Linked DNA regions of Homo sapiens: regions 2, 3, 4, 5, 6 and 7 are each reported to be linked to region 1. Evidence: microRNA targets listed by miRTarBase, many of them from high-throughput screens and not tested one by one. Region 1 holds a microRNA gene; each other region holds the end of a gene's coding sequence. Distances are from middle to middle.
Evidence for each region. Region 1 holds the annotated microRNA hsa-miR-4662a-3p (AAAGAUAGACAAUUGGCUAAAU, at 2,739-2,760, opposite strand). A microRNA usually pairs through its seed, bases 2 to 8, with sites in the 3' UTR of a target mRNA and lowers its output. Matches are read on the target gene's strand: a 7mer-m8 pairs with bases 2 to 8, a 7mer-A1 pairs with bases 2 to 7 and ends in A, and an 8mer does both.

Region 2: the mRNA of PURG is a reported target of hsa-miR-4662a-3p. The part of its 3' UTR that is shown has no 7-base or 8-base seed match.
Region 3: the mRNA of NFIA is a reported target of hsa-miR-4662a-3p. Seed matches in the 3' UTR shown: 7mer-A1 at 2,091-2,097.
Region 4: miRTarBase lists UBQLN1 as a target of hsa-miR-4662a-3p. Seed matches in the 3' UTR shown: 7mer-m8 at 2,397-2,403.
Region 5: the mRNA of HHIP is a reported target of hsa-miR-4662a-3p. The part of its 3' UTR that is shown has no 7-base or 8-base seed match.
Region 6: the mRNA of MAN1A2 is a reported target of hsa-miR-4662a-3p. Seed matches in the 3' UTR shown: 7mer-A1 at 2,354-2,360.
Region 7: the mRNA of SZRD1 is a reported target of hsa-miR-4662a-3p. Seed matches in the 3' UTR shown: 7mer-m8 at 1,535-1,541.

What each region holds. Positions count from the first base shown.
Region 1 is chr8:124,820,267-124,824,786 of GRCh38, reverse strand. MIR4662A (microRNA 4662a) reads right to left here and starts at 2,802; the gene lies at 2,736-2,802. It overlaps MIR4662B (microRNA 4662b), which reads left to right and starts at 2,729; the gene lies at 2,729-2,809.
Region 2 is chr8:31,028,707-31,033,226 of GRCh38, forward strand. PURG (purine rich element binding protein G) reads right to left here. Exons shown (of 2, transcript NM_001323311.2): 1 at 4,372-4,520; 2 at 2,144-4,082. The coding sequence starts at 4,076. The coding sequence ends at 3,033. Among named protein-coding and RNA genes, the nearest start is that of PURG, 2.4 kb to the right of the region's middle.
Region 3 is chr1:61,454,364-61,458,883 of GRCh38, reverse strand. NFIA (nuclear factor I A) reads right to left here. Exons shown (of 11, transcript NM_001134673.4): 11 at 1-3,581. The coding sequence ends at 3,564. Among named protein-coding and RNA genes, the nearest start is that of NFIA-AS1, 200 kb to the right of the region's middle. RefSeq lists an enhancer at 4,366-4,520.
Region 4 is chr9:83,658,423-83,662,942 of GRCh38, forward strand. It overlaps UBQLN1 (ubiquilin 1), which reads right to left. Exons shown (of 11, transcript NM_013438.5): 11 at 1,546-3,517. The coding sequence ends at 3,365. Among named protein-coding and RNA genes, the nearest start is that of IDNK, 38 kb to the left of the region's middle.
Region 5 is chr4:144,736,486-144,741,005 of GRCh38, forward strand. HHIP (hedgehog interacting protein) reads left to right here. Exons shown (of 13, transcript NM_022475.3): 13 at 1,279-4,520. The coding sequence ends at 1,472. The region is part of intron 1 of LOC124900791 (a long non-coding RNA gene); the gene reads right to left. Among named protein-coding and RNA genes, the nearest start is that of HHIP, 93 kb to the left of the region's middle.
Region 6 is chr1:117,522,076-117,526,595 of GRCh38, reverse strand. It overlaps MAN1A2 (mannosidase alpha class 1A member 2), which reads right to left. Exons shown (of 13, transcript NM_006699.5): 13 at 1-3,771. The coding sequence ends at 3,639. Among named protein-coding and RNA genes, the nearest start is that of TENT5C-DT, 81 kb to the left of the region's middle.
Region 7 is chr1:16,393,982-16,398,501 of GRCh38, reverse strand. SZRD1 (SUZ RNA binding domain containing 1) reads right to left here. Exons shown (of 4, transcript NM_001114600.3): 4 at 357-3,464. The coding sequence ends at 3,362. It also overlaps a transcript of SPATA21 not described here. Among named protein-coding and RNA genes, the nearest start is that of SZRD1, 29 kb to the right of the region's middle.

The DNA.
Region 1 (4,520 bases):
CCACCGCGCCCAGCCCTATAATAAGATCTTGATGCTTTTGCATCCTCAGTCCTGTCACAGTGTCTGCCACACTTAAGATGTTCAATAAATATTGATTAATTAGTATTGAATAAACAAATTAACCTCATGGGGCACATGATTTGGCCTGTAGGATAATTGAATCTATGGTAAGGGGCATTGTTTTATCAAGAAGTAATTTTAGCCAGTTCCTGTTATGATCTTAAACTGGGGAAATACAAAACAATAAGATAAGGCTTATTGAACATTTACTCTGTTGGATCCTGAAGCTTCATTCAGATTATCATTTGCATCCCTTAAAACAACAACATCAACTACAGCTCTTATTTTCATTTTGCCAATGTAGAAACTGAGGCTCAGAGAGATTAAAAACCTTCTCCAAAAGTCACAGTAAGTAAAGGAGAATCAGGAGTTGAACTCAGGAAATCTAATTCCAGTTTCCACACACTTAACCATTATAGCTTATTCCTTTCCTCTTACCAAATAAGTGGAACCCTGCCAGGCTCTTACAATCTAGTTCTAGAATCACTGAGTGTTACTGGCAGGGACCTTTAAAAGTATCTAATCTAATGGTCTTTTTAAAAACAATGAAACTGAGAACCTGCAAAGGCATGTGACTAGCCTCGATGAGAAAGTGGCCCAACTGGGGCTTGAGCCCAGGTCTCCCGCCCTCCATGCTGGTGTGCCTTGGTAGGAGTGTGGACCTGAACTACAACAGGTCATTCACCCAGGCCCCCAGCTCTCCATCCCACAAATGGGCAGGGAAAGGCAGGGAGGTATAAAACACCGGCTTCCTACCTTCTGCTTCGATCCACAGAGAAGACTTAGGCCAGAGTGGCCCTGCACGTCCGCCTTTCCCCTCTCAGGGAGTCCCTCTTTCTGGGTTTGAGTCTTGCCAGTCCGAAACACGTGCGAATAGAATCCCAAAAGCACAGGGCCCAGGCTTTTTTCTGGGCGATGTGCTGTTTTTTTTTTTATATCTCAGACTATGGCTGTTACTGTCCATGGGCTCAACTAATGCAGAGAATTGTAGGACATCTAGCCCTGCTCCTAAAGGAGGCAAAATGATCCTTATCATGCCTGTTATAGCCAAGGAAGGCTGGACCCAATTCCACAGAACTCGAGATGGCGCTTTTCATTTCAAAGAAAAGACACTATGAGCCTTTCTCATATTTCACAGCATGCTGTGTGTTGCACTTGACCTCTACTCTTGCCCTCAGCTTCCCCAGGTGGCCTCGCCTCCCTGCTGCAGCCCCAAAGCAGTAAAGCTACAGCTCTGGGCCATGGGCTGTGGCTTCAGTGATCTAGGACCTGATTCTCCTAAAAACCACAAATGGATAGTTCTTCCAAAGACCCAGGGTCCTCATAGAACTCTCTAGAAACAGTAATGATCTCCTTGGAGCTCAAACAGTCCCTGAGCTATCAGACCCTGCCAACACCAGGGCTTAATGCTCAGGGAACACATTTTATGAGAGCAACTGTCACTCCTGAGCTTCTGTGGGTCACTTGAAATCACCCAGTTATTTTTCACTCAGCTGAGGGGCAGTATAGTTCTGACGGGTGGCTTTGGGTTCACTGCCTTCAACTCCAGTCAGAAAACGTTAGTGCTGAAATGGATCCGGGGTACAAATAGTTGGGTTGTTGACATGCTTTCTTCTGTTGTATACATAAAGGTTCCACATACAAAAACCTATTTGCAAAGAGAGGTCAGATGCTTAAATGTGAATAATAAAAATGCTTATCCATGGGTACTCTAGTTTAATCTCCTCATTACAAGAGGAATCTGAGGCCCAGAGAGAGAAAGTGACTTGTCCAAAATCATACAACTAATATTGCAGCCAGCAATAGAACAAAGAGAGCTCAGGAATTCTGGGTCCCAGTGACTATGGAAAACAATTGTCTGAAATTTTACCACTAGAAATTGCTACTCCCTGCCCCATACTACCTGAGTCTTATTTAGGTAAACAGATAGTAAATATAAACATTATCATTGTAAAAAAATGTTTTAAAGACCAAATATATTTATAAAGTTTTTTAAAGTGATCTTTTGTACCCCTTTGTACTCTACCCAATCCCATTCATTTCCCGAAGGATGTCCGATGTTAACAAATGAGTGTCAAGTCCTTCTAGGCCTTTTTCTATGCACTTAGGAATGTGTTTACAATATATGACTGGGTTTTAAAAATACATACTTATATACTATATGTATGTAGATATAAGTATAAATTTATAAGCCATATTTATATATTATGCCATTTATAAATATAAAATCAAATTGTTCTGTTTTGAGACTTCCTTTGTTCACCTAACCTTGTGTCTTGGCACTTTTTCTCTCTCTTTTTTTTTTCTTTTTGAGATTTTGCTCTTGTTGCCCAGGCTGGAGTGCAATGGCACAATCTCAGCTCACTGCAACCTCCACCTCCCAGATTCAAGCGATTCTCCTGCCTCAGACTCCTGAGTAGCTGGGATTACAGGTGCCTGCCTCCATGCCCACCTAATTTTTGTATTTTTAGTAGAGACAGGGTTTCGCCATGTTGGCCAGGCTAGTCTCAAACTCCTGACCTCAGGTGATATAACCATCTTGGCCTCCCAAAGTGCTGGGATTACAGGTGTGAGCCACCGTGCCCATCCATGGCACTCTTTCCATGTTGGTCAATAGAATCTTGATGTTTTGTCGATGGCTTCATGGTATTCCATTGTATGGATGTACCACAATTTCTATTTAGCCAATTGTCTATCTTTAGGCATTCAGAATAGCTAAAGATGGACAATTGGCTAAATAGACACTGTGGTACACAATGGCTTTTTCTGTTGCAGCCATGGTTGCAGTAAACTTCCTTGTATATAAATCTCTGGGACATGAGCCAATGTTTCTTCAGAAGAGATACCTAGAAGTGAAGATGTGAGATCATTTGTCTACAGAAGGTTTCACTTTAAGTTGTAATGACTCGCCTTAATGTTGTCCAAAGGTTGTTTTTCTAAACCTTATTTGAGGGCCCACAACAGCCATAAACTTTTACTTATGTTTCACCTAGAATCATCACAGCAATCCTGTGAAAGCAAAGTATGATCCCTATTTTTCAAAAAAACTCACTGAAGTAGGAACAGACGAAAAATATCTCAATTTGTGAAAAAGCATTTACAAAAAAAAAAAAACATCTAACATCATACTTAATGGTGCCAACTGAACGTCTTCCCACTGAGATTGGGAATAAGACAAAGATGTCTGCTTTCAACATCTTCTTCAACAGGGTAGTAGAAGTTCTAGCCAGTGCAATATAGCAAGAAAAAGAAATACAAGACATACAGATTGAAAAGAAAGAAATAAAATCATCTCTATTTGCAGATAACATGATTGTCTATTTATACAATCCTAAAGAATCTAAAAAACATAAACTAAAATAAACCTCCTAGAATTAATAAGTGAATTAAGTAAGGTCACAGAATACATGATCAACACTCAAAAATCAAATGCATTTGTTTATCCTGTCAATGAACATGGGGAAACTGAAATTAAAAACAATACCATTTACAATCACTTCAAAGAAAATAAAATACTTAGGTATAAATACATATACTATGTCTCTGATGAAAATTACAAAATGCTGATGAAAAAATAAAGACCTACATAAATGAGGAGAAATACCATGTTCATAGACTGGAAGACTCATCATAGTGGAGATGTCAATTCTTCCCAAATTATCAATAGTTTAACACAATTCTTATCAAAATCCCAAAAAGATTTTGTAGACAAAGCCAAGCTTATTCTAAAATTTGTATGGGAGGCAAAAATTTTGAAAATAAAATAGCTGTGATAACTATTTTAAAAAGTAGGAGGAAGCACTCTACCTTGTGTTAAGTCTCACTATATAGCTACAGTTGCCAAGGTAGTATGATATTGGTGGAGAGATAAACCCACAAATCAATGAAACAGAATAGAGGACTCAGAAATAGACCCACAAAAATATACTCAACTGATTTTTTACCAAAAATACCAAAAGTGCAAAAGCGAGTGAATGAAGGAAGGAAACTCTTTTCAACAAGTGGTGTTGGAGCAAAAAACAAAACAAAACAAAATCTCTTGTTTTAACTTAAGTCTCATACTTTAAAACTTTATACAAAAATTAACATAGATCACAGACTTAGATGTAAACATAAAACTTCAACACTTTTAGAGAAAAATATGGGAGAAAATCTTTAGCACTTAGAGCTAAGTTAAGGAGGTCTTAGACTTAAAATCAAAAGCACAATTTATAAAAGAAAAAATTGAGGCATCTTGATACTTCATCAAAATTAAAAATGTTTGCTCTGAAAAACACCCTATTAAGAGAATGAAAAGGCTGGGCACAGTGGCTCACACCTGTAATCCCAGCATTTTGGGAGGATCACGAGAGGTCGGGAGTTCGAGACCAGCCTGACCAACATGGAGAAACCCCGTCTCTACGAAAATACAAAAAATTAGACAGGCTTGGTGGCAGATGCCTGTAATCCCAGCTACTCGG
Region 2 (4,520 bases), 94 Mb from region 1:
CATCTTTTGCATAAAGCAACAGATTAGTGCTGCTTTCGATTGCTAGGAGCACACTGCCAACTATCAAGAGGAACCCGTTTCCAAATTTCATACTATTAGCTTATATTACTACAGTTTGAGCCTGTACCACATTATGCTTGGATTATTAGGTGCAAACATCATCAGTGTTTTAGAATTATACAGTGAACTAGTACTTTTGGTTACTAACTTTCATGCTCATTTTTTAACTTCTAACTTCCAGTTGCCTTAAGAGTTTAATGTCTTCAAGGCAGGGATTCTGTTATTTTGAAGGATACCATGAACACTTGCAGCTCCATGTATGTTACAAATGACAATAAATAAAATGCATATTGCACAGATAAGAATAGTAGCTTATTTTATAAGATACATGGCAATACATGTCCTAAGACCAGAGTTTTGAACTGGATCATATTTAATTACGGCTAATGAATTCTTGGGAATTTTAAGTATCAAAAAGTCATAGCATCATCTCATTTTTGAATGATTAACTATGAAAAAAATGAAACAAAAGGACTGGCAGAAGGCTTAATAATTTTAGAGTATACTCAATTGCCAGTATATATGCATCTATTTAATCTGCAGCTTTGAGATGGTAAAAACTTTGAAGTATACATACAAAGTAGAAAATCTGGCTGCTTAACTAATTCTTTACTTAAATAATTAATGGAAAACTAAATTTAATAATGTTTATATACAATGAGTTAAAGATATTTATCTTTAAGTCTGACATGGTATTGTATGTATGTATACACACATATATATGTATACATGTATATACATATGTCTGTGTGTATATATATAGATATAGACACATACCCAAATCTTATCAGACCCAAAAGGTAAAAGGAAATCATTTAGACCTAATGGATATAAATATTTTAGAAAGGAAGACTTTAAGAGAGTGTATACACTCATAGCAATAGCGATAGGAACAATCAAATACTAGAATATTCACAGCTCCAGTTTGCCAAAATCTGACAGGTTGATTATTATTAATAGGCACTATGATGGGCAGCAATAACAATCAGTAGTACAGTAATTCAAGTGCACATCATTCCTTCATAGACCAAAAACTACTTTTTTAGCAAGCCTACATAGTTATTTTACAGTTAGGACTGTTTAAAAATCCTTGCTACTTTTAGAGTCTCAACACCCACCATGTGCTATTAGCTCTAGTACTAACATTATCTCCTAACCTTCAGTTGTTCCATAGTGATCCAGATGGTCCACAATTATAATGAACTAATGAGATTCCTTCACGCTACTAGAGGAAATGTGAAATACAATCTGCAAACCAACACTAGTATATATGTCGGGGTTACTGATTGCTTGTTCTTAAGTAACATAAACCAATGAAATTAATTTTTTTAATTCATACCATCAAGTTTTCTTAGTGACCTCACGTAAAGGTATTGGGGGACAAAACTCTGGAAGAAAAAAATCGCTGATATAATTTTAAATTACTTTTAGCATATAAAAGAAGAGCTACATTCTGATTTGAATCCATGCAGCCAGCTCTCATCAATGAGAGTGATATTTGGGGGTTGAAATCAGTGTTCTGGCTCTTAAATATGATTAGATGGACTTATTGTGTGGGAGGTGAATAAAGCCAAGATAAAAGACAATAATTTCATTCAGAAGAAAATATAGCTGAATAGATGTAATTTCAGTCAATTAATACAGGATGGGTTGGTACACATATAACACTATATCCACTTGTTTAAAAAATTGCTTAGGTGTTGAAAAATTGCTGTGGCACTTCCTGGAAAGTAATTTTTAATACAGGTAAATGGGTGAGTCTTGTGTAAAGTCAGAAAGAGCACCTTGGAAAATGCCTGAATTTTCCTTTCAAATATATTTATAACCAATCTTCAAATAATATTTTTCTCAGACTGGAAATTTGTATTCTAAATTATTTTTAGAAAAAAAAAATCCCCACCCCCTCCAGAATTAAAACACCTGTAAAATTCAGGATTATATTGGAAGTGTTGACATGGTTTTAAGGGTAGCAATTGCAAAAGTGCTACTAAAATATATTATTACAGGTATATTTTTATATCAGTTAATTGGTACACCAACCCTTCTGAAAGAGTGTTAAAGAAGAAGCATAAAGTATAACACCTTGAGTCCATGATATATTTTGGGGAAGAAACCTCTTGCAATCTTTAAATTAGCATGAAAAGCTACACCACCAAGATTTCCATAGCAAAGCCATTGGATGAAGCCTCCCACTCAATGTGACATAAAAGTAATTCCTGAAACTTTGGAAAGTCAATAAAAATATATGGAACATTAAGTAGAGGTAAAGAAGGGATTGTAACTAAACTTAGAATAACGAATTAAAACTCTCCCATGGCTTTGATATGGCAACTATAAAATGTAGGGTTACCACAAAGTTTGAAATTATAGAATACTATAGTATTCTTAAGAAATATTATGACATTATATTTTTAAGGTTTAATTAGGTAATAAGATTTGATCCTTTGATGGTATATTCAGTTATTCAACGGACAATATACGTCTACTTGTACTTTTATAAGTAAATATTTATATATACCGGAGGTCAATTTCTGTTTCTGTGGTAACTGCCCTACAGGTAAGCTTAGCAGCTTTTAATGAAGTAGAATTGAAATACTTTTGGGGGAAAGTCACACTTCTATTTAAGTATATGTATCTTTTTTCGGGATTATGTCATAGTGCAATGTAAATCTTAGTTATGGTATTTAGAATGTCAGAATGTCACATTTTGTGCTGATTTGCATACTTCAATAGTCTGGAGCAGTTGAAGCAGCTAAACTATTTAGCTCTGGGAAGGTTGGAATTCCCGTAAGAATTATAGTGATCTATGTGTAACATAACATGAGAATCAGACTTCCTGAAGTATCAACTACTAGAGGTATTACTAATAACAACGGGCCAAAAAAGAGGAAAAACTTCTTCAAAGGATAATGGATCAGTACTTTTAGCCAATTTGTGATTTTAAATTTTGCCTGATGGAGTTCAATTTCACTCTAGTCGAGGCATTCTTGTTCTTCACCACTGGCCTTTCTGCCATCCATTCTCTTTTCTTTATGGCTGTTGCAAATTTTCCTCATCTCTTCTTCATACTTGATAAAATTCTCCCCAAACCTTGTCCAAGCTTTGAATGGAACAGTAATAGTATTACGGTAAGGTGGTCTCACCTCACTTACCTTCAGGAAAATTCCATATTTATTAGAGCCCACATCAAAGTAGAACCTTTTATTGTCCACTCTGAAAGAAGTCCCCTCTGGGAGTTCAAGCGGGTCATCGTCTCCACCTCTTCGTTCTTCTATGTCTCCTTCGCCATAGTCTTCAATCAGCTGAACCAAGGCATCACGAAACTCAATCATTCCTTGTGCTGGGAGGACAATAGTCTGTTCTTGGCCCAAACTGTGGCCAAAATAACCTATCATGCCAGTCCCCCGCATCATGGTTTGTCTAATCCGTAGGAAGCGACCCCGCTGATTTTCCTTTAGGTCTAGGTAATATTTCCTATTGTCCCTCTCGATATAGTCTGTTTTCAGGACACTGTGAGGATGCTCTTCGGACCCCACCGAGACTGGTGGGGAGGGTGCCGAGTGCTTCTGCCTCCTTCTGGAGCCTTGCTCTTTGCTGTGGCCATGCTCTTGCCGGTGGCCTTTCAGGCCCAGGTGGGCATAGTGCTCGATGAAGTCCCCTAGACAGTCCTTCAGCTCCGCTGCCACAGACAGGGAGAGGGTCAGTTTACTCTTTCTGATGTTGTCCTGCCGGCCTCTCCCTATCCAGACTTCGGCTATCTTTAGGAAGCGGCCCCGGGAGCTTTGCTTCACGTCTAGGTAAAACCTCTTTTTCTGGATGTCCACTCGTTTGGAGGCCAGCTCCTGGATTTCGGCTGCGCCCCCGGCCTGATTAGGGGTGGCTGAGGCCGCGTAGTGGGGGTAGTGGGAGTGCTGGGCCTGGGGATAGAGTCTACTCTTGCTTAGGCCAGAGCCCCCTACATTCTTGCCTCCGCGGCCGCGGCCGCCGCCGCCTCCCCTTCGCCTGGCTCTTTCCATCTTCAGCTGCAAGTAACAAACAGACACACGGGATGGGGTGGGGGAGGGGTGTTGAGAACAATCGCAGACGCCCCTCGGCCTGACCGCCCCGCCGCCGCCCGCGACCCCCACGCCGGGCCCGGCTCCCCCGGCGCCGCAGCGCGGGGCTCCAGCCACTGCCGGCCGGTTGGCGGCCGCCGCTCCGGCTCTGCCCGCGCTCCCCGCATCCCTCCGCCGCCCCCGGGGCCGCTCCCGCACGCCGCCGCCGCCCGTCCCGCGCTCCGCGGCCCCAGGTCTCCAGCCGGCGGGCACTCACATCATCTCTGCCATCACCGCCGCCGCCGATGCCCTTCACGACCACCGCCGCCGCCACCGCCAGCTCTCGGCCCCTCTGCTGCAGCCGCCGCAGCCGCCGCCCCCCGCCTCCTCCCCCGCCGCCGCCGCTCGCACTGCCCCCCGCCGGAG
Region 3 (4,520 bases), not on the chromosome of region 1:
AAATCTGTTCAGAGTTCCCTAATTTTAGCTTCATCAAACTTAATACAACAAAATACCTTCAAAAATACAGCATACCTGTAACGTCCATTTACAATGGTTTTTCAGTAGACCTATACTTCTCAAGCATAGGAATATGCTATACCATTGAGAGAAAAAAATAATTGTATTTAAATACTTACAAAAAAAAAAAAAAAAAGGAAACAGGAAAGTTTTAAACTTAAATCCAGTTCCCAAAGGGGGGGTAAAAAGAAAGAAAAGCAATTCTATGAACGCTGCCTTTATAATGAACGATCAGAAATTTTACTAGGCTAATTTGACAGAAATTTTTCCTCATTTAAACAACATTACAAAAGTCCTGCATTATAAAATAGGGTAGAATAAATCAGTGTAATCAATAAAACTATACAACAATACAAATTACATATCTTCTGAGCGGGCAGTTTATTCTCTCTCTTTGCAGTCATGACTACAACATGCTCACTAAAAACAACTAAAACTGCCCAAACTATTGCTTAGTTTGTTTTGTTTAAAAAAGGGTGCAATTTTATTGTATATACAACCAATTTACTGGTAATACCTTGGCTTATTGCAAGGTTCTGACAAAATGTTTGTCTAGGCTTTTTTCCCTTCACTGTGAAGCACTGAAAGCTGCTATTTTTTCTTTTTTTTTTTCTTTTTTTCCTTTTTTTCATTTTTTAGTGCACATATGTCATAATAAAGTAATGCCCAGCTAAGTGCTATAGGGGAAGGCAAAGTATGCTGGCTGGCTATAGGAAGTGACACCATACACTGACAATCACACCATACAACAGCGCCAAACGACTATTCAACCACTTATCAGACACATATGAAAATCCAAAATGTTTTATTTTATTTTTTTTTCCTTAAATAGAGATAACCAGTAAACAATTTTCAGAACTTGGAAGTTTAAAAACGTGCATATAAAAATGGGCATTATATACTTTTTATTGAATGTGGATTGACTGCAGTCTGCTAAGAAAAATGGGGTGTGGGAGCTGAAGAAAAAGGAAGTTGTCTTTTTTTTTTTTAAGGCTTGCTTGTGAAAGGAACAGTTGTAAAAACAAAATTGCTTGAAGCAGGGTCAGCTTAGTGCTTCACAGTTTGACTGCTTCTCTAAGAGGAGCCCTTCCTGCGCACGTGCATTCAAAAATCACAAAAAAGTACAAAGACAAACACCTAAAACACACTGCGTCAAGTGCAGCACCGACTTTGGTCAAATAAAAAAAAATAAAAGAAAAATTAATAATTGCTAAGCTTTTCTACATGATATAAGCAGGTATTGCATATTTTCATATATCTGGGGGAAAATAAAGGAAGACTCCAAATAAATTGTAAAATGCAGCAACATCCAAAATACTGATATTCTAAGCATCTACAGATCTCAGAATAGCACTGCCACCGACCGTACAGGACAATAAAGACTACTCCTATCTGCGGAACAACTAGCTTTCTATTTAGTTCTAGATGTTGAAACTGACGATGGCTGACATAAAAGTCACATTTACAAAAAGTGTCTCCAAATGCTTGACTAGGGAAAAACCCCTTTCAATAGAGGAGCATGTGCAACAATTCCACAAATAATCGCTATCCAGGGCAAGGCACATTGATATGGAATTTTTGTTTTCGTGCAAATTAAGGAAAAAAAACAAAACAAAACAACATTGTTTCGGGGAGAAAGATGAGGAGCAAAGTGTCTTCCCAAGAATTTCAGTTACTTGATTGTATAGGACAGTAGTAGAACCCTTCTGAAGGGCTGAAAAACATAGTTTAAAGGCAAGTGCCTAGAGTAGGGATTACAATATTGTGTCTTAATGCACTCTACTTTATCCTACATTAACTATATAAAAATTAGTTACTAACACTAGAACATGCAGAGACTTTCTCTGATCAGCAGGGCTTGCCAACCAGAACGTATATATATGTATAGTATAGGAAACCTTCTTGAAGTCGCATGGGAAGCAAAGGGGTGCTTCGCTGTCTGGTAGAAAAATCACTTGCACTTTTTTTTGTTTTTGTTTCTGTGGTTTTTTGTGTTTTTTTTTTGTTTTTGTTTTTTGTTTTTTTTTTCATAAGATACAGGACGTTTGGGGGTGCAAACTTTTTTTTTTTTCCCTAACAAGTACCCTTGATCTGAATGGGCACCAGCATTTGTGTCAGTATTGGTTTCATCATTATTATTATTATTATTATTACTATTATTATTTCCCATAGCCCAGTTCAGGGATGCAAAGGTCTTTAAAACTTCTGGACAATCTCTGGTACAATGAGGTGTCTGATAACTGATAAATCCTATGATGCCAGATAGGTGTAAAATTTTTTAGAATTGGCGTAATCCATTATAGTGACTTCTAGCTTATAAAATTAACAGATACCATGATTTCATTTTAGTCATGTGCTTTGATAACAGAAAATAATTAATTAGCATTTAATGTAGTTAACATATTGTGGTAAAAGCACCATTAGATTTGTTTTTTTGTTTTTTTTTTTTAATTTCCTTCAGTTTTTAAAGGGATACAAGTTTAACAATAAAAAACATAAAAAGCAAAAATAGCTCCCCTTTTTCTTGCAAGGCTGTTTTTTACCCCAATAATTTAGAGTCCTGGGGTGAAAGGACTAGAAAAACAAAAATAGAATTTTCAACAATCTCTATCTTACAAAGATATTTAGCTATCCAATGAAATTGCACTTTACTCAATTCAAAATTCGATTGTTTTGATTGATTCCTGTCAGTTTCTGTCAAAACAGACCATCTTCCCCATTTCCATGTGAATTTTTGTGTCATTGTTGAAATTGTTGAAAAAATGTTGTTGTTGTTTTTTTAAATGTAAGTGCAGCATTTCAAAACTTTTAAAAAACTGAACAGTAGTAGTAGTAGTTTGCCATTTTCGGAATTGTTCTGCAATGTGAGTGGATTCATTGTCCTTGCGGGCCATGTTATATACTTAACTGCTGACTGCTGAACCAAAACAAACTAAAGGAACAAATAAAAAAGGAATATAACTGCATTTTCTTTTTCCAATATGTTACAGAAAAACATTGCCCTTTGACTGTCCCGTTATATATTGCAGATCTCAGCTACTACAAAAGATTTAGTTCTCCATGTGCCTCCTCAATGCTCAAGGAGGATCACACCTGTGTGGGTAAATTCATGAAATACTGTGAAACAGCCAGGCTCCGTAAGGAAAGTGTGTTACAACAGGAAGTCAGTGAGCAAGGGTAGTCCTCCGCTAGCCACGTCACCTAATGCTCACGCTACCATGGAAACACTTCAAATGTTACAAAGCCCAACCATTTCCAGCACCATATGAGAAATTACAACAGTCCCTAAAGTATTTTAAAAAAAAAAAAATCCCAAAAGGTTATGGCCTTTGCTGTTTGACCATAATGCTTGCTGTTTCCATGTACAAGTTGATTTGAATCGGTTTTTCTCCCCTTCCGCTGATAGTGAAGTTGTAACTGCGCTGGGTTGAGGTTGCGTCCATGTTACAGAGTTGAGAAGGGGTCAGGTGGTCTGTCTGGTGGATGGTGGGACGCTGCAACTTTTATCCCAGGTACCAGGACTGGAAGACAAAAGGAAAAATACAATTAAAATCACAATTTGTAAAAACGTGTGTTTTAGAAGTTGCCTTTTCAACCACGAAATCAGGATCTACGTTAGGGATGCGGGAGGGATTCGCTGGGAAAAGTAAAGGCACGACAGACAATAAAAAATCCTGTGACACTGAAACTGATCTTATTCTTCTGAAATTATAATTCATTGTCTTCATTGGGGTTTTCCAACATTCTGAGTATATCTTACAGAATGAGGTATTTCTGTTCACTTGAAATACAAATAAGGGTTTTGTTAACTGATGGGGGCAGTTATAGGAGGGCAGGAAACTTGACCATCTTGTTTATCATTCAATCCTCAGTGCCTAGCCCAGTGCCTGGAATACAGAACGTTCTTAATGAAGAAGAGTTGAATGAATGGAGAATGGGTAAAGGGAGGGGTTTCATGTGGCAATGAATGGCTACTCTGATGATTTTCAACATCTCCTTTCAAATGAGGTGCAGGCACTGAAGCCATGATTGTGACACTCTCCTAACAGGCCCAGATGGTCAATAGCGACACAAGAATAAGTGGAGGTAAGGTGGAAAAAGTGCTGGACCCAGTCTTCCTGGGTGATTTTGAGCAAGTCACAGTATTTTTCCTTCCTTACATATGTAGGATTTTATGAGGGAAGATGCTCCTTTCAGCCCAATATATCTAAAATGGTATTTTCAAACATGAAACATAATAACTAAGTAGGATCAAGATTTTACTCTATTAAGTACCACATTGTCCAAAGGAAAAATGAGGCCACTGCGTACCCTTCATTCATGCTTGCGTCCATGCAGCATTTATTTAGAGCCTTCTGTGTGCCTGCCAGGCCCAGTTACTGGTTACCTTTTCCTTTCGTAAATCCTTAGGTGGTTAGCTTTGAGCAATTGTCTGGTCATATATCACTTTATCTGCTGGC
Region 4 (4,520 bases), not on the chromosome of region 1:
TAAAATAAGAACGCCACCTTCCTGACCTGGTCTCCCCACTATGCAGCATTTTTCACCAAAGCACTGATTACCTGGCAGGCAATCTGTATGTTTTCCTATCTCCCTACATTCTACTATGTAAACCCCATGTGGACACAATCTTGTTTTATTTGCTGCTATACTCTGAGCAACTGGAAAAGAACCTGGCACTCAGTAGATGTTCAATAATTTGACTTTCTGACATAATAGTTGCCTATGAGAAAAGATACAGAGAAGTTGAAGAGGAACAACTGATGTTACTTAGGTAATTGCCAAGACAATTTTAGAGCAGAAAAATAAAAAACAAAACAAAATGCTACAAGGTGAATGGGGGGAGCAAAATGCAGCAATTGACAGTAAAGACTAAGTATGAACAGTTAAGAGTTTCCCAAACACTGGATCAGCAAAGTTTAGGACGCCTTCAGAACTGAGCCCAGAAAGAATGGTAGGGTTTATAGGAGCCAAAGTAGATAAATACCATGTGCGACACCAGAGAAGGGTAGATACACGAAGTATAGGAAGGGTGTTCATTGTATACAGCATCACCTTAAAGAATAGTTAAAAGATGGTCTAGTGAGACTGGAAAAAGCTGATAAAACTTTAAATAGACTTCTTTCATGCAAGACTTCCTGTTAATTGTAATATAATATTAATCTCTATGAGAAGAAGTACAATATGCAGTATTTCCCTGCATTAATCACAGAGTCATTTTTTTTTGTTAATCATGTGTATGTCATTGCACACACGGCTTAGCTTCACTTTTGTCACTAGCATATTGTTATCCATTGTTATATTTTGTTGTGATATATGCCTATTAAATTAACATAGTAAGAATAAAAGACTCTTTTCATTATTATATTTAAACCAAGTCTGAAACTCAAGATTCTAAATACACACAGAGGCCAGGTGTCATTTATCTGATTTTTCAATATTTGCTAGACTTTGTTTAGGATATCGCAAATATTATAACTGGGAAATAAAATCCTGAAATGCTATTTTCACTACCCCATTCTTTATTCAATTTGTACTAAATATTATCACTCAATATGAGAACAATTTAAGCCTACAGTATTTTAAACATCCTTTAAGTGCTGATAAGAATTTTAAGTATTTTGAACCCCTTAAGATGTAGATATTTATCTTTAGACTTAGACCTAAATAAACATATTAAAAACAAAAACCATACCACTGCAGTAGCTTAAAGGTACTTCAGAGCTTATCGCCCAGTCCAGCACACCTATAAGCCTCACCACCACATGTATAATAAAGAAACCATGACGCCTCAATGTCACATAACTAGTCAAGTACCAAGATCAAAAGTGGAGCTCAAGTCACCTACCTTCCCAGTGTGCTATCTTTTTATCACACCACAAAAGACTGTGACGTTTTAATTGGAAAACCTGAAAAATAAAGAATGTAAAATGTGACAAAATCTGGGGTAAATCAACTCCAATAGCCTTTAAAACACATGGTTAGCAAAAGTTAAAGACTTTTTTTCTTTCTACAAAAGAGGCAAGACAAATCAAGTGTAAAAGCTAGAGATTTATTGTTATTTTATGATTAATAAATTGTCAAATTAGTTATGACACTATCCCACACTGAATACCACCATTTGCCAGTACAGAAGTTTTTAAACCAAACTGAGGCATAAAGCAGAAAGAGCAAAGACACATGAATACCCTTCTTAACAATCTCTTCTACTTATGCCTCCACCGTAACCTTTGTACTTGTTTTCCTCCTGGGGAAAGTGTCAGAACAGTGCAAGGACTGGTGGGTAACCTGGCCTCTTAACCTTTTTAATAGCAAGCAACATACAGAAGTAATGCAATCAACTTGTATTTCCCTTGATTTTATTGGTCTGAATTCATTTTAGGTTACTTTAACATTTTAATTTCCTGTAACTGTACATGAGAGAATATAATCACCTAAGAGAATACTGAACCAGAGTCAGCCAAATGTATCACTGACCCTCAATTATGTTTTAATTGGTCCTAAAGGAATGTACCACCCCAACAGTTTGGGAGTTAGGCAAACAGAATTCTTTGGGGGAGGGAAGAAAAAGGCTATAAAACAGCCAAATGTACTCAACATCATTAAAACGGCTCTTTGTTTTTCACCCCTGAATGATACTTCTTTACTACACTATATGCACAGAAATCCTAACAGAATCTTGGTTGCCAGTATTATTTAAGCTGGCCCCATCCAGGACAGATTCCGCTGCCCCACCCCCCCACCCCGTCCCCCTTTCTCTGAGGCTCTGAAAAGCACAATATTTAACTATTTCTTAATAGAACTACCAAAACACTTCAGAAACAATTGGCTCACAACTCATTTTAAATTTGTGTATTGCCTGTGCATGAGAAAACAGATAAACCCAAAAGATAGTTCTATTTTTTTATGGCGATTAAAAATAACTGAAACATCAAGACACTTTTTCAGTGAAAGCAACATTTCAATTACAAATTTTAATGCCTGTTAAACTACCTATGGGAGAAGCTGAGAAGTCCTAGGCAAATGCACTTTGGGGTATACTACAGTGTTCCTTCAGTCTGCACAAAGATTAAGGTAATTTACAGTCAATCTGTGAATGAATGTTGAGACAATGTTACATTATGTGTCTGTACAATTAATTGTCCTTAAAGAGATAACCAGAATCAGCTTTTCTACTGTATTTTCAACAAACCTGACTAACCGGCACTTTTGCTGGGAGATGTTTGTCAAAGATGCTGTAAGATTCTATACAATTAGGAAATACTCAGCTTTAAGAGTATTTTCTTATCTTCACTTTTTTAGTTACAGGTGTTTTGCTCAGAGAGCCTATTGCAGTATGTTTCCAGAAATGCAGTCCCAAATGTGCATACTCTATATTGTATACAAATAAAACAAAATTATCAGTAGTATAAATCTTACAGCATTGTTTGCAAAAATGCATGCCAAAGTCACAATAAGCAATACTGTACCACAAATTATAGAGTGCAAATGATTTGCTTCTTTTTAATGCTTTTATTCTACATAAATTACTACCATAGGCTAATGTTTAAAAAGCAAATAAACTGGACAGATGCAGGACAAAATCTGGTCACCCAACTATAAAAGGTGATGTTTTTAAAAAATTACAATAAATGCAGAAGTGATGCATGCAGTAGCCTTAATTCCCACTGTTCCAGAAAAGAAAAATACAGAAAAACCCACACATCTTACTGTACTCCACCTTAAAATGCATCATATTGGGTTTGTTTATAACAGCACAGAATTCCAAGAGTCAAAATGAAATAAAGCAGGTATTTTAAAGTTTAAGAGCCGTTATCAAAAATAAATTACATTTTTTCAAGATACAGAAATGCTGCTATGATGGCTGGGAGCCCAGTAACCTTTCAATAGCTGCATTGATATCACCTCCTGTTGCTATTAGAGCTTGCAAGTTTGCTTCACGGTTCAAAAATCCCATTGCACTGAGTTGTTCCAGTTGTTGCTGAAATCTGACTTCTGGATTCTGTAGCTATTAAAGAAAAAAAAAATTAATCCAACTCTAAAGGAAGCCAGTCCCTGCCACACATGACTTTTAAAATTTTTTAATTGCTTTTTTATAACATATGCTGATCTACTGAGCTTTAAAAACACTGCCCACCTCTTGAAACTTATCCAACATATTTAAAAGTCCATTAGCAGTTTATTTTAAATAGTCTAGTTTGTACCTAAATAATCATGTCAAATAGATCACGACTCTACTTTAGGGGAGGGGGAGAAAAGCTTAATAAACATCAACCATTATTTTAGAGGATCACGTACATGCAGAAAAACCTGTATGTGTGTGTGTATATACATATACATATACACACACACACACACACACACACACACACACACACACACAGATAGTTCAGAATTAGATGATTTGTGTAGCTACTGACCAATTGAGTAACTATAAAAGCTGGTATCCTCATGTATAAAATTCTAAAGCTTCAATGATTCTTCGAATGAATGTGAGTTTAATTTTTGCACTGGACAGTCAATTCTTAGAAAAGAGCTTCAGTTTCAGGCCCAAAATTATACTCTTAATTCTGACATTTCAGCAGCATCAAATCTTTTCTTCAGAAATGAAGTTAAAAAAAAAAATCTCCATATAAATGACCAATCAATCCTAGGCCTACCTGATAATTTGGAGGCTTGTAAGTTAACTTATGTCACAATTAATTCTAATACTCCAAATCCTTCTTTCTTATTTATTCCATGAATATTTACTGAGTACCTACCAAGAGCCAGAAACTATGCTACGCTAGCTTATCAGGAATACAGATATGTATGAGACAGAACCCTACCCTATTTATTATATTTAGTAAGGCTTGAAAACAGAAAGCAGGCCAGGCTCACGCCTGTAATCCCAGCACTTTGGGAGGCCAAGGCGGGTGAGATCGCTTGAGCTCAGGAGTTTGAGACCAACCTGGGCAACACGGTTGAAACCCCAGCTCTACAAAAAATACAAAAATTAGCCAGGTGTGGTG
Region 5 (4,520 bases), not on the chromosome of region 1:
ATTCCCTGCTTTGCATTTTGCCTAATCTCTTATGTTATCTGAAGCCTGCTAGTGACAGTATATTTAAACTGAGGGTGAATGAATTATCTCAAATACAGATGGCACTATATATACCTTAATAGATATTAATAATAAATTGTGATATAAATGAAAATAGACATACATTGAGTTAACATAAAGTTTTACTCCATGAGGTACTTTCATTTTTACACTGAATCAATTTAAATAGTTTGAATATATAACATTTACCAAAACCATTTTATAAAAATAATCTGTTTATGTGGGATGTTTTGGACCTAAACAGGAATTTTATTCATGTACTCACATTGTTTACTCATCTCCCACAGATTTAAAGCATAAAATTGTTTATTTTCTTCTTACTTTTTCTATCCCATGTGTCAACCACAGACACCTGGAATTTGATTAACGCATTTGAAAGGTCAAAATGACCCTGTCTCGTCAAAACATAAGGAAATGTATTGAAGGAATTTGACTCCATCCCCAGTGACTGTACTCCCCAGATTTAATCAGAAAATAGCAATTTATATACCCAATTTTATGTCTCATTTTAGCAGTATATCTTCTTATTTCCCATTTATATTGTAGTGGTAAAATTCTTTAATGAATAAATTCTGTGCTGTAGGGTAACCCTGAAAAGGTTTGCTCAGAACATCCTTTGCTGGCCAACTGCACTGACTCCAGAAAGAGACTTCTAAGTGTAATCAGAGAGCAAAGCATATGCTGTCTGCCCCCTGGAAGCAAGAGGAAGGAAGAATCCAAGGGAGTTTATATGGTGGATATTCCACCCAACCAAAATCCAAAACTGACTGTTCCTTTCTGTTGCACTGGAGTTGCTTGAGCCTCTGTGTCTCCCCCTCAGGCTGGGCCACTCCCATGTTGAGATCCTACCTTGAAGGAATGGGAACATAGAGCTTGGGAGGCCCTCTGTAGAGAATGCTCCTGTGAAGCAGAGATTTCAAAGGACTAAAATCTTCATTTTAAATAGAGTTAATTTTGCAAAGGGTTGCAATTGTTTCTCATGATCTCTGCTTCTCTAGAAATGTCTCTCATTCTCTGCTGAGTTCAGGTCTCCAAATAACTATGGGTGTAAAAGCCTGTTTCCTACTTGCATATTTATCTTTCAGATCATTTTGTAACTATCTCCCTCCTTTTTTCCCTCGCTTCCCTTATTCAGCAAATATTTGTTGGTCTCATGCTCAGTCCTGTTTCTGACATACAGAATGAGAGTGTGATGTTCTTGCTCTTTTTCTCTCCCAGCAAAATGTGAGCCAGCATGTCGTCATGGAGGTGTCTGTGTTAGACCGAACAAGTGCCTCTGTAAAAAAGGATATCTTGGTCCTCAATGTGAACAAGTGGACAGAAACATCCGCAGAGTGACCAGGGCAGGTATTCTTGATCAGATCATTGACATGACATCTTACTTGCTGGATCTAACAAGTTACATTGTATAGTTTCTGGGACTGTTTGAATATTCTATTCCAATGGGCATTTATTTTTTATCCTGTCATTAAAAAAAAAAGACTGTTATCCTGCTACACACTCCTGTGATTTCATTCTCTTTTATTAATTTAAAAATAATTTCCAGAAATGTGCAGATCCTCTGTGTGTATGTCAGCATGTTTGTTCACATATGCACATACACATACTCATAACCCCTATATGCGTTGTTGCATAACAGATGATTTTTTAAAATATATACTTCCTTATGCAAAGTAATTTACACAGAAATTCCATTGTAAATTGATAATGGATTTTTTATGTTACTAGAAGAGATTATTTGACTTCCCAGGAATTTTCTGTCTGTAATCACTAAAGTCAACTTTAATAGAGTTTTGAAACAGTACTGTGCAATCCGATGGATCTAATTAAAAAAAAGGCAATATTTTTATATTAAAGTACTATACTAGGAGAGAATGTTTCAGAACTCCCTGATGAATTTCTAAGTGAGCAACTTGATATAAAATTGTAATCTTCATTTTTGTCAGTGTATCCAGTTACAGAATGCTACACACTTACCTTTTTATTGGCTGAGAAATCTGGTTATTTCATCTTAATCTCAAGATTGTTTTCAAGTGTTTTATAATTAAATCATAATAGCATATTTTAAAATCAATCTTCCTAAAAGGTCTGCTTTTATTGTATATTTTATTTAACAATAGGCACTGGGTTTGTGTTACATATTTATATATTTTATTTTATTTTTATAATATAGACATCACCTAGATGAAACACCTTTACCCTGTCCTGTAAAACACTAAAGTTACATTTTTCACCAACTTAATTGGAAAGAAGGGGAGTGAGAAAGCAAACAGTCTTTAATGTGCTGTGGATCTAATCTAGCAAGGTATCCTTGTGCCAACATGTAATCATTAACGACGGATGAAAAAGCAAGAAAACAGCCAATCCTTATAAAATTCCAGCATTAAACATTTGTAAAGTGCTTTTCACCATAGCAAGACTGTCAGAGTCTATGTTATTAGAATGTTGCAGATTTCCACTGAATCGAACCTCACTGGAGAAGAGCTCACTTGTTTTTAAAAATCTTGGCTATGTAAGCTGTCACCTGTACAAATTTTTAACATAATAATTCTTGCCAAATATGACTTTAAATGTACGTGTTCCTTCAGAACTCAATGAAAATACTCTTTGGCTAATGTATCAATAAATTTTCTGTAAATGTTCTGTTCAGGGTTTTACAGAGATGACATGTTCTGACTTAAAACTGCAAAAAGTCTAGTAGATATTTTTCTTCATGGTTTTCAAAGCCAGCTCTCCACGTTTGGATTTTAACAAAATATAAGGCCTCTTTGCACTAGTGAAAAAACACGTCTACTCATGACAAGTGCACACCCACTATGGCTGTCCTTCTTCTGTAAACATCCATTCCTCTAGAATCTAAATTGTAGAGCAGTATAGATTATGCAGCGCCAGCTGACTTTCTAAACCTTCTCCTTACCTTTAGGAATACAAGCCTCAATTTAAAAAATATATTGTAGCTAGTATTTCTCTATTGTTTTAAGGTGAGAGATTTGCAATTAAAGCCCAGTAAGCATTTATATAGAAGCCACAATGTAGAAAGATTGGTTAAGTACACTGCTCTTGTCTTCCATATATGATTACTTAAGTTTCAAGTGACCTCATGCCAAATGGAAATGGGTTGAGAAATCTTGGTTCAGTGCTTAGTGAACAATAGCCTGCATTAAAAAGTGCATGCATAATTTTGCACAATTTAGATTCAATTGACAGTCTATTCAAAGAAGTCTCAGGATTAAATGAGCATGGAGACCAAATTGCCCTCTTACCCCAGAAAAGGGGTGGTCCCTTCTAGTCACACTAACACTTCATTGGCCCAACAGTGTGACAAATCTTGCAATGAACCATGCAGTAGCCTGCATCTGTAGGTTAATAGCAATCTTTTGTCTCCATTGCTTTCTCTTCATAGCCCTTTTACTGAATTCCATCACAGAAAGTTTTACAATTAAAAAAAAATGTCCTGACAACCATTTTTGTAAATGGACCTTACCATCTAATTGTCCCTTATTCAACGTGGGTGACATTAACAAAATGTGAACTTCTTGTGAGGGAGCCAGCTGTCTAAATCTGTCAAATCGTGCAGTTTTATTACACATTCTCCAATTCTTCCTAGTTTCCCTGAAAACAATAAGGATACTGCTATATATTCAGTAAAATCTAAAAAAATCAAGCATTACTTCTTACATCTTTAAACTTTCCATCTCCTCCCCAAAATAAAAGGTGTTCTATTGCCATTAGTTCTACTGTTTTAAAATATCTATATTAAGTTGACCAGGCCCAGATTTTTTATACAGCTTTTTCCCAAGTGAAAGATTTTCAAGTGACTTAGAAAAACATATGTGCCCCAGGTGTCATTGCCTTTTCTTTTGTGAGTCATTAGAATGAAAGGCCAAGTTCTTCTCAAGAGAAGATAGCAAGATCCACGGATATTAAGCCAAGCAAAGAAAGTAAAATCATTGGAGTCATTTCTTTCTGTTCTTAGGAGAAAAGTAGATAGCACTGGCTAATTGATGGCAACATATTTTAAATTAAGTGGTCAATTCAAAAATTCTCTTTGACCTTTTCTTTCAAGTAGATTTTTTTAAATGCATGACTGGAGAATTATCTTCAATGATTCATGATGAGAGGCAGGTAGGAATTGGTTAAGAAGTATGAGCAGGAAAAAATTATTGTTTAATCACATGAAAGGCAACATCTGTTCAGTTCATAAAGCACACAGTCTCGAATGGAAGAAAAAAAGGTCCTTCGTAAGAATACTGATGCATAAGATAAAGACGAAATAATGAAAAAGAAAAATGTATATTATTATTCCCTTGTCCATTCTCAAGTTTAAGCTGCGGTTGTCAGTTGAATGTGAAATGATGTTATAGTTGTTTTAAATGGTTGGAAATAACCTTTCTACTACTGTTTCTGCCACACTGTTGTCCTGGTTCATAGAACCTTGTTTTCTTGACAGTTATTTAAGG
Region 6 (4,520 bases), not on the chromosome of region 1:
TGCTTTTTAATTATGCAATTAAAGTGATATAGCAAAATAAGAACGTTTTTATTTCTAAAGTAAATATTTTAGTCAAAGTTGCATCAGAAATCAAGTATTTCTTTGACATTTTCAAGAGGTTTTAGTTATTAACTACAATTATAGTTGTATTATACAGTAACACATTGTTTTAAAATATATTATAAACCTTTTCTTTTTCCTCTTTAATTTATATGAAATATAAAATTAAGAATTTTGTAACACGATTCATATTGGAAACATTTAAAATGTTGTGAGCTACTCTCATACAGAAAATGCTGTGGAATCACATAAAACATTCTAATGATTGAAAGTGCCAGGCACAATGCTTGGCACATGTTAGATACTTCATAAATGTTCGTTCACACATTCTCTCATTTACTCATGCACTCATTCAAAAAACTCCAGGCTTAAGGAGAAACTGCATTATAAATGAGAATGGCAAACACAATCTTTTATCAACAAATTTGGAGTTTTGACAAAGACTTTGGCAATGGAGAGTGGAGAAGATGAGAGGATGATGATTAATATTTCAAACTGCTTGGTTAAAATCTAGCAAGTATAGCCCTGAGTTGCTCTATATGACATCATAGAGGATCAGGGTCAATACTCCATAAAAAGAATGCATTTCCCTTCGATACCCAGGTTTTATTTTACATATAAACACCTGCTTAAAGTCAGGAATACGCTGATGTTAGAGAGATACAAAATGTGCAACCCACAAGAAAGTAAGAACCACCTGACTGGGGACTTATTTTTCTGAGTTGAGACTTCTTTTTGGTTAGGGCCCCATTCCCTTGGTTTTAACAACTTAATACTGGTTGAATAATAATAATAATAATAATCTGGTTTAACATAAAAAGTGTGATTCTAAAATGAAGAGAAATAAATGTAGAAGGAAGAACAGTGTTCAAAATTCCTATTTTTTTCGATTATGCACCAACTGATGTATCTATTCTGCACATTTGTGCCAAAGGCACAAGGTAAGGTGTCAGCTCTTTGAAGAGGCACCTGAAAAGGACCATTTCTGGGCTTTTTGCAGAAGATCTTATAAATGCAATGAATATTTAACCTGAGTATTAAGGTCTACAAAATGCAAAGAGCTGTAAAAGACAGAAGAAAGTAAAGAATATTCTTGGAAGCTAAGCATTATATGGGATAAGAATTGATCTTGAAGGAAATAATTTAAAAATCTATAACAAAAATAAAACATGACACTGGCAAGTCATTTGTAGCTGACTTTAATTGCCTTTGGTATTCAGGAGAATAAAAAAATGGAAGTACTTTTATAAGCTCTAGTCTTTCCATCACATAGAAGGTAAGGAGTGGTGAAGAAGACCCTTCCATTGTCCCTGTCAAATTCTTTGTTTGTACCAGAACTGGCTCTGCTTGTATACTTCCCTGCCTTCTCTTAAGCTTCAGTCATCTGGGTAATACAAATAGAGCACTTGGAAGTAGGGGTTCTGTCTCCTCATCCCTTGAGAAGTTCCTGCAGAACCAAGAAGGTCCCTTTACTCTGCATTCTTCTAAATAAGGTAAAAGAGAATTCAGAGAGTTCATTGCCATCTGCACTGCTGCTCTGCATCTTTGCCAACTCAAGTTTTTCACTTTTTCTCAGTGATTCATAAGTGGGCTTGTGCTACTTTTACGAGGAAGGCTAACATTTTTTAGAACCAAATACTTTCCCTTTTCCCTTCTACAGTTACAGTAATATATATACCTTTCTCATTTAGAAATTTAAATGTTCAAGTAGTAAAAGATATTACAATGTCAAAACATGTGCTATAATTTAACTCTCTTAAGGACTATTGTAACTGGCCCTGCATCCTTATTTTCTACTGAAATTTTTTTGCAGTGAAAAATTTTATACTGAAAAAATTTGCAGTGGTTATCATTTACGGATCAGTAGAACTGTCAAAATTAACGATTCGTGGTATAAGATGATCAACCTTAGAAAATACTATATTAGTTAATTAAGTCTTTCCCCAACTTAAAACCTAAGTTTAAAAGAAAAGCTTATCAAACAAGAAAATAAGCCTTCAGAATTCCAAGGTGGGCTTCTTGTACAAACTTTGTTTCAGGAAATCTTCAAATTCAGAGTAAATGTTATACTAATTATACTGTTTCTAAGTTTTATTAATGTCAATGGAAGATGCCTATATTAAATGAAAAGAGCAAAAGTATCTTGCACTGTCACATAAATTTAAGGACAGAAAATTTATAAGCACTAGATATTTATCTTACAGTTCCTGATAAAATTTAAGTTCTTTTTGTCAAAATATAAAGAACTAGTAGTTTATTTAAAAAGAAATATCAATGCAAAACCTACTGATAGTAAGATAAAGTTCCTTAGATGTATCCCAATTTTAGTGTAATATGATTAATTACAACACTCTTTTATCACTGAAAATTATTTTGAAACTATTCTGATTCTTTGGAATTCTATAAATATTCTTGGAGAAAATTAAAAAAACATAAAATATCTGTGAACAACTCACTCATCTGATGAGATTATAAATAAAAGATCCCCTGTCCCTATTCCAGATAGAATATTTTAGAAAGTTTCACTGTTTGTTCTGCTTTAGTAAGTTATAAAAGTAATTTATTTAGCTTATCAAGGCAAATTTAGAGCTGCCTTATAGTGATTTTTGCCAAGCCACATAAATAAAGTTGTAAGTTGAGTGACTCTACTAACTTTATTATGAAATTAAAGTGAATAAAATTTACTTGGTAGATGTGTTGGTCTGGAAAAATAATGTAGCAACAAAACCAAGGATTGCTCTTAGGTTTCAAGGCAACAAACTGCGGCATTTTCCCCACTTTCTGTCATGCTACCAACACTAGACTGAACTACATGCACAAAATCCCAAACCCAGGCTCATAAGTGGTGATTATGATAAATAGCAGTTTCGATGATTCCATAAGAAGAAAAAGACTTGAGTATTCTTTGTGAGATCATGCCCCCAGAGAAAATTAAACTTAACCAAGAAATTTCAATGAAATAGACTGGGATTTGAAATGGTTGCCAGTCTGGTCATCCAATGGGGAACTTGAAAATTCAGATAGGGATAGGTACTCCTGTTTCTTTTTTGAGTCTTCTTGTTACTGATATAATTATACTATTCTTTTGTTCTTGTTTATTTTAGTTCATTCCATTATTAAAATGGAGAAAAAGTGATAAGCAATATGTAAATATTTGATTTGAATGCTGCTCCACTGTAGGAGGAAACAAATACATAATTGGTTCCAAAGGCCATCTTGAACTCCTGCAAGGTGCTCTATATTCTTGACTTGCTTTCAGGAAGTCTAGCCTCCAGACTTCAGGACTCTAAAAACAATACAGTAGTAACAGGTATCATTTCTCATGTGACCACCTCATTAACGATCAAAGCACATCCAGGTCTCTGTCCTACACATATCAGAACATGTTTTGGTCAGGTATAAAATGGAATAATTTCAAAGTTGATGTATCTACAAGTTGAACAGTCTTAGGGGGAATAGTTTCACCCTGTCATGTTGACATAGAGGTCCAGGTTTTCAAAAGCCGCCCCTTCAAACTAATTTCTGTAGTGGTCCATGTAAACAAAACACAGGTGAGAATGGTCCTTCTGGAACTGCTTTCATCGAACAGCAGGATTACCTGAAAGTGTGGTGTTGGCTAAATGTAACACAGGCAGAGGGTGAGCCTCTGTATTAAACACCCAGTGGTCTAAAGGTAAAAGGTCATCACCGGAGAACAGCAGATACAAATATCTGAAAATAAAAAGGGGAGAAATGAGCTTCAGTTAGAATTCAACAAGAACATGAAGTGAGCTCACTTTTAATGGCACAGAAAACCAATAACGTATTTTGAGCAGCTTTGATGAAAAACATCAAAGAAATAAACCTCAGACACCCAAATGATCTAAACACAAAGACAAGAGGTTTCAGAATAGTGTATAAGAAATCCAGTAAGATGAACAACTAGACCTACTGAAATAAAACAGTTTAAAAAAAAATCCGGCCAGGTGTGGTGAAGAGAGCAGACACCTTTGTCTTGTTCCTAATCTTAAGAGCAACACATTCAGTTTTTCAATATGATGTTAGCTGTAGGTTTTTCATATATGCCCTTATCAGGGTAAGAAGTTTCCTTCTATTCCCAGTTTGCTGAGAGTTTTTATCAGAAATGGGTGTTGGATTTTGCCAAATAATTTTTCTGTCTACTGAGGTGGTCTATTTTAGTTCATTGATTTTCAAACATTAAATCAACCCTCCACACCTGGGATAAACCCATTTAGTCATAACATATTATCTATGTAATTTGTTGTTAGAGTTGATTTGTCAAAATCTTGTTTAGTTCTATCTATGTTCAGGAGGAATATTGGTTCTGATGAGGACTCTGCTGTCATTCATTTTTTTCCATAAGTTACTGGGGTACAGGTGGTATTTGGTTACATGAGTAAGTTCTTTAGCAGTGATTTGAGAGATTTTGGTGCACCCATAACCTAAGCAGTACATACTGC
Region 7 (4,520 bases), not on the chromosome of region 1:
CTGTGCCTTCTCAAAGCACAGGGCTAGGCCTCTCCTCAGGTGAGCACATCCCCCTCTGGACTGGGAGCCCCACAAAAGCAGCCATTCTCTCTCTCCACTGGCTCTAAGACAGGCCCTGTGGAAGAGCAGGAGGTGGCCTCTGCATGCTCCCCCGACAGAGCCCCAGGACCCAGGGCTCTCATTCTCTGGGAGCCCCAAGAGGGGTGGGTCCTTTCCCCTCAACCCACATACCACCCGGCCTCGTGTTTTACCAAAGACAGTCTTTCCCTGGGACTGGGCAGAGGGAAATCCCCCAGGGTTAAATAAGCGGCCACAGCAAGAGGTAGAGGGCAGGGACTGAAATGAGGACAAAGATCTGACAAGTTTAAAACATGTATTTAAAATACAATTTATAAAATGCTTAATCTGCCGACTCAGGAGCCCGCGGTGCAGGGTGGGGTGGGAGTGGGCAGCTGCCCGCTACACCAGCAGAGTAAGACTGCAGGGGTGCAGCCCTCCCTCCCATGCCCTTCTGTTCAGACACCCAAGGGGCCCATGTGCACCCCTGGGATCACACGACCAGAAAACAGGACCCCAGAGGTTTCTTGAGTCTCTGCTTACCAGGGAGGCTGGGTACAGCCCTGCCAGCCCATCCCTGAGCAGGGCACCCCCAGATGGGGCAGAGCAGGGTATGGCTGGGCAGGGCAGGGCTGGGCGGGGCAGATGGGCTCTGGAAGGGGCTGATGGTAGCAGATAGGGTGTTGCCTCCTGCCTGCAGGTGGGGAGCACCCTGATTGAGTGGGCTGAGAAAGGTTGGTCACCAGGCCTGGACCCCCCAGCTCCTTTGGTTATAGGCTGACATCAGAGTAGTGGCTCATGGGAAGCGGTTAGCTGGAAGGTCTGAGGCCTGGCCCATGGGGTCAGGGAGGAGCTGGGGGAAGGGGACAGTACCGTGAAGGCAGATAAAGGGGCAGCAGCCTCAGGTTTCTGCCCCCCATCCCCCTGGGGTTTTCCAAGCCAAAGCCTGCAACTTACTTTAAAAAAGAAAAGGAAAAAAAGCACTTAGGAAAGTTACAGACAACTACCCCCAAAAAATACCCTCCCACACACAAAATCCAAACCGTTTCCTCATCTCCCTCCCGCCTCCCCCGACACAATACAGTTTCCTGTTTTCTTTCTTTTTAAAAACGTTGCCTGCTACCTCTCCATTTGGGAAGCCCAGGGCATGACTGCTGGTGGGTGGTGACAGGCACACAGCGGGCAAAGCCCATCTTTGGCCAGAGGGAGGTGGGAGGACCAGTCCCTGCCACATCCTCAATCCACAGACACCCACCAGCCAGCCTTTACTTTGGCCTCCCACTAGAGGGTAGTGGGGCAAGAACAGGTGGTCCCAATGGCTGGGCAATCAGCACTTCTGGCGTTCCCACCTGGACTACCTCTATACCCTTCTCCAATTAAAAGGAAAGTCTCACTTTGGGCGGGAAACCACTATTACATAAGGGATGGACACTACACATTTAGAATGTGGACACTTGGTTAGGGCAGTGGAACTATAAAGATAGCAGCCAGTTTTCTTCCTTGCCTTCTCCTGAAGGTAATCCTCCCTCTTACTGACTGAAGCTCTGGTTCCAGCTCTGCTCATGGGCAATGCCTGGCTTTACAGTTATAAGGCTGTGCTATGGACTAGCTGCTGACTCAGCTGGCAGCTGGCCCTTCCTCCGGAGGAGAGGACGTGTTGGGGCATGGCTTACTGGGCCTGGCCTACCATTCCCACAGGGAACCAACGAGGGAGTGAGCCTGTGAGACTCAGCTTGCCACCTTGGCCACCACGTGCTGCCCTCATCACAAAAACCACACCAACCACTCCGAAACGTATCTGCTGGTCAGGAGCAGGGAGGCTGTCTGGCTGGCTGAGGGATAAGGCGCAGTGCAACGGAAGGGATCAGGAAGCCTGAGAGGAGCCAGGTACACACAGCTGCTCTGGGCAGCTGCCCTCTTAGTCTCTTCCACCTCAAGGAGCCAAAGCAAACCCCAGGCTCCAGGGACAGAGGATAAACTGCCTTCATTCCAGGCCCTCGCTCTGGAAAAAGGGGTGACGGGTAGCCTAGGCCTCTGAGGAACCAGTCTGTCATCAATCTTTGCAAAGCAAAGCTGTTCTTTTTCCAACTTTATTCAGAATGTTCTGCCTTCAAGGTACTGATTGCACACAGGAAATGTACCAGGTATAGTTACTGAGCTGGGGCCACCAATGGAGATGGAGCACTGCAGACCCCTAAGAGTTCAAGCCATGCTGGAGTGGGAAGACCTATCCACCTTCTGAACATACGAGGCAGAAGGCTCAGAGTCCTGGAGGCAGACTCTCTCCTGGTTTTCCTTGTGCTGATGGCAAAATACTAAACAAGTCTTCTCTCCGTCACTTCTAAGCCCAGGGATGCAATCTCACTCCCTGGCACTCTGCTTTCTTCTAGAAGTAGTAAGCCTGGCTGGTAGGGAACCACCCTGAGGGGTATGGGAAGGGGAAGTCGGTTCACTTTCCCTATCTCCCAAAATACTAGAGGTGGGGTTGGCACCCTCCCCAGGCTCTCCGAGCCTACAGAGCTAGCCCAGTCTCCAGGCAAGGCCCAGATGCCCTGGGACTTAGCTCGGGGAGGGAGGTATAGGCATGGGGTGCTCGTCTGTCCTGGCGGCTGCAGAGCCCTGCCCCTTTTCTGGGCGGCAGTAGGAATACAGAAGCTAAGCTCACCAAAATCCTATTGGTTAATGTTTCTAGTGAATTTCCCAGAAACATTTTTAAGTAGACTACCAAACTACCCTTTCTTAATTAAAAATTCATTAAACCACTAAAACCCCTCCCATGCACTTTTTCTTGCAAATCAGATATTTGTATAAACAAACAAAAATAGGAAGAAAAAAAAAAGAAAGGATATTTTCAAATGGAACTTACTTTTTAAGTGATGGAGACATGCACTTGGGGGTGGGTGGGTGTGAGTTTTCATTTGTGTTTTGAAATCCCAAATTAATGAGCATGATAAACTGTTATTGCTGGCACTGGCTTTACCCCAAGTGGCCAAGTGGCACTGTCTGACTCTCTGAGTCCTTGCTGGGTCCCCCCAACCTTCCCCTAACCCCCACCCTTTCCCTTTCCATTGACTTGGGACAGCCCTTGTCGATGTGCCAATCACAGTGGGAAGGGGGAGAAGGGGGGAGGTCACAGTGCATGGGGTTCAAGGTCACAGTGGGCGGAGCAAGGGGGATCACAGTGCAAGTAAGTCAGGTCGTTCCCTCTGCTCAAGTCCAGCTGTCTGCCACGGCAGTGCAACCCGTGGCGGACGACCCAGGAGGCGGTGACGGCAGCAACGGCGGCATCTTTTCTTGCCTGCATTTATCTGCGCTGTTTGAAGCCTTGAGACCCATCAGGACCCAAAGGCTGTCTGATCACATTATTGGGCTGCCTGCTGTCTTCGGGTTGGGAGATCCTGGTTGGCCTGAAAGGAAGAAAAGCAGAGGAAGGCCTGAAGAAGGATATAATAGATGTCCCCCATCATTTCTTTATTTTTTATTTATTTTTGAGACGGAGTCTCATTCTGTCACCTAGATTGGAGTGCAGTGGCACGATCTCCGCTCACTGCAACCCCCACCTCCTGAGTTCAAGTGATCCTCCTACCTCAGCCTACCGAGTAGCTGGGACTACAGGCATATGCTACCACACCCAGCTAATTTTTGTAATTTTAGTAGAGATGGGGTTTCACCATGTCGGCCAGGCTGGTCTTGAACTCCTGACCTCAAGTGATCCGTCCACCTCGGCCTCTCAAAGTACTGGGATTACTGCACCTGGCCTAGATGTCCCCCATCTTAAAATCAACTGTCCATATAGCTGGGCCCACGTCACTCTGGCTCCGCAAGCCTGCTTCTTTGGGAAGCTGACTCAGGGCACCTCCAAGTTGAGAGGCCCCTGTGAGCAGGCAGGGTCGGTGGTGCACATTCACCTCTAGCAGCTACAGCATCCTTTCCCCCTGCTCAGCTGCCATCATGCACTTGTAGGCAGGGGGAGTGCTTGAGGGCCCACTCTGCCCAGAGGCAGTGACCATGGATAGCACATGCTCCGCAGAACCATTTGGAATCTCCAGAGTGTTAGGCCAAAGTAAAGAACTGGAATCAAGAGCTCAGCAGAGGGACACATCCCCCGCCCCCCAATTCTTCCCTCCCACTCCTCTCCAAACTCTGCGGTTAACGGTTGACTCATATGACTATTTTTCCACCCTGGAAAGGTGAAGACTTAGAGGAGAAACAACAAAAAGAACAGGTATCTCTTCAAAATTATGAAGAGCTAGAAAGAAGGTACGCAGATTTTTTCTTCAAGTCCCAGAATACCAAACCATAGCAGCCCCTCAAAGTTAGAAGGAGGCCATCTTAATGAATACTGTTTGATTCGAAAGTGATAAACTTATATGATGCAACCTTTAATACTGCAGAGAAAAAAATGTTAAGAGTAAAAAGGAATTTAGAAAATTCACAAAAACATCACAGTGGGCATACTGGAG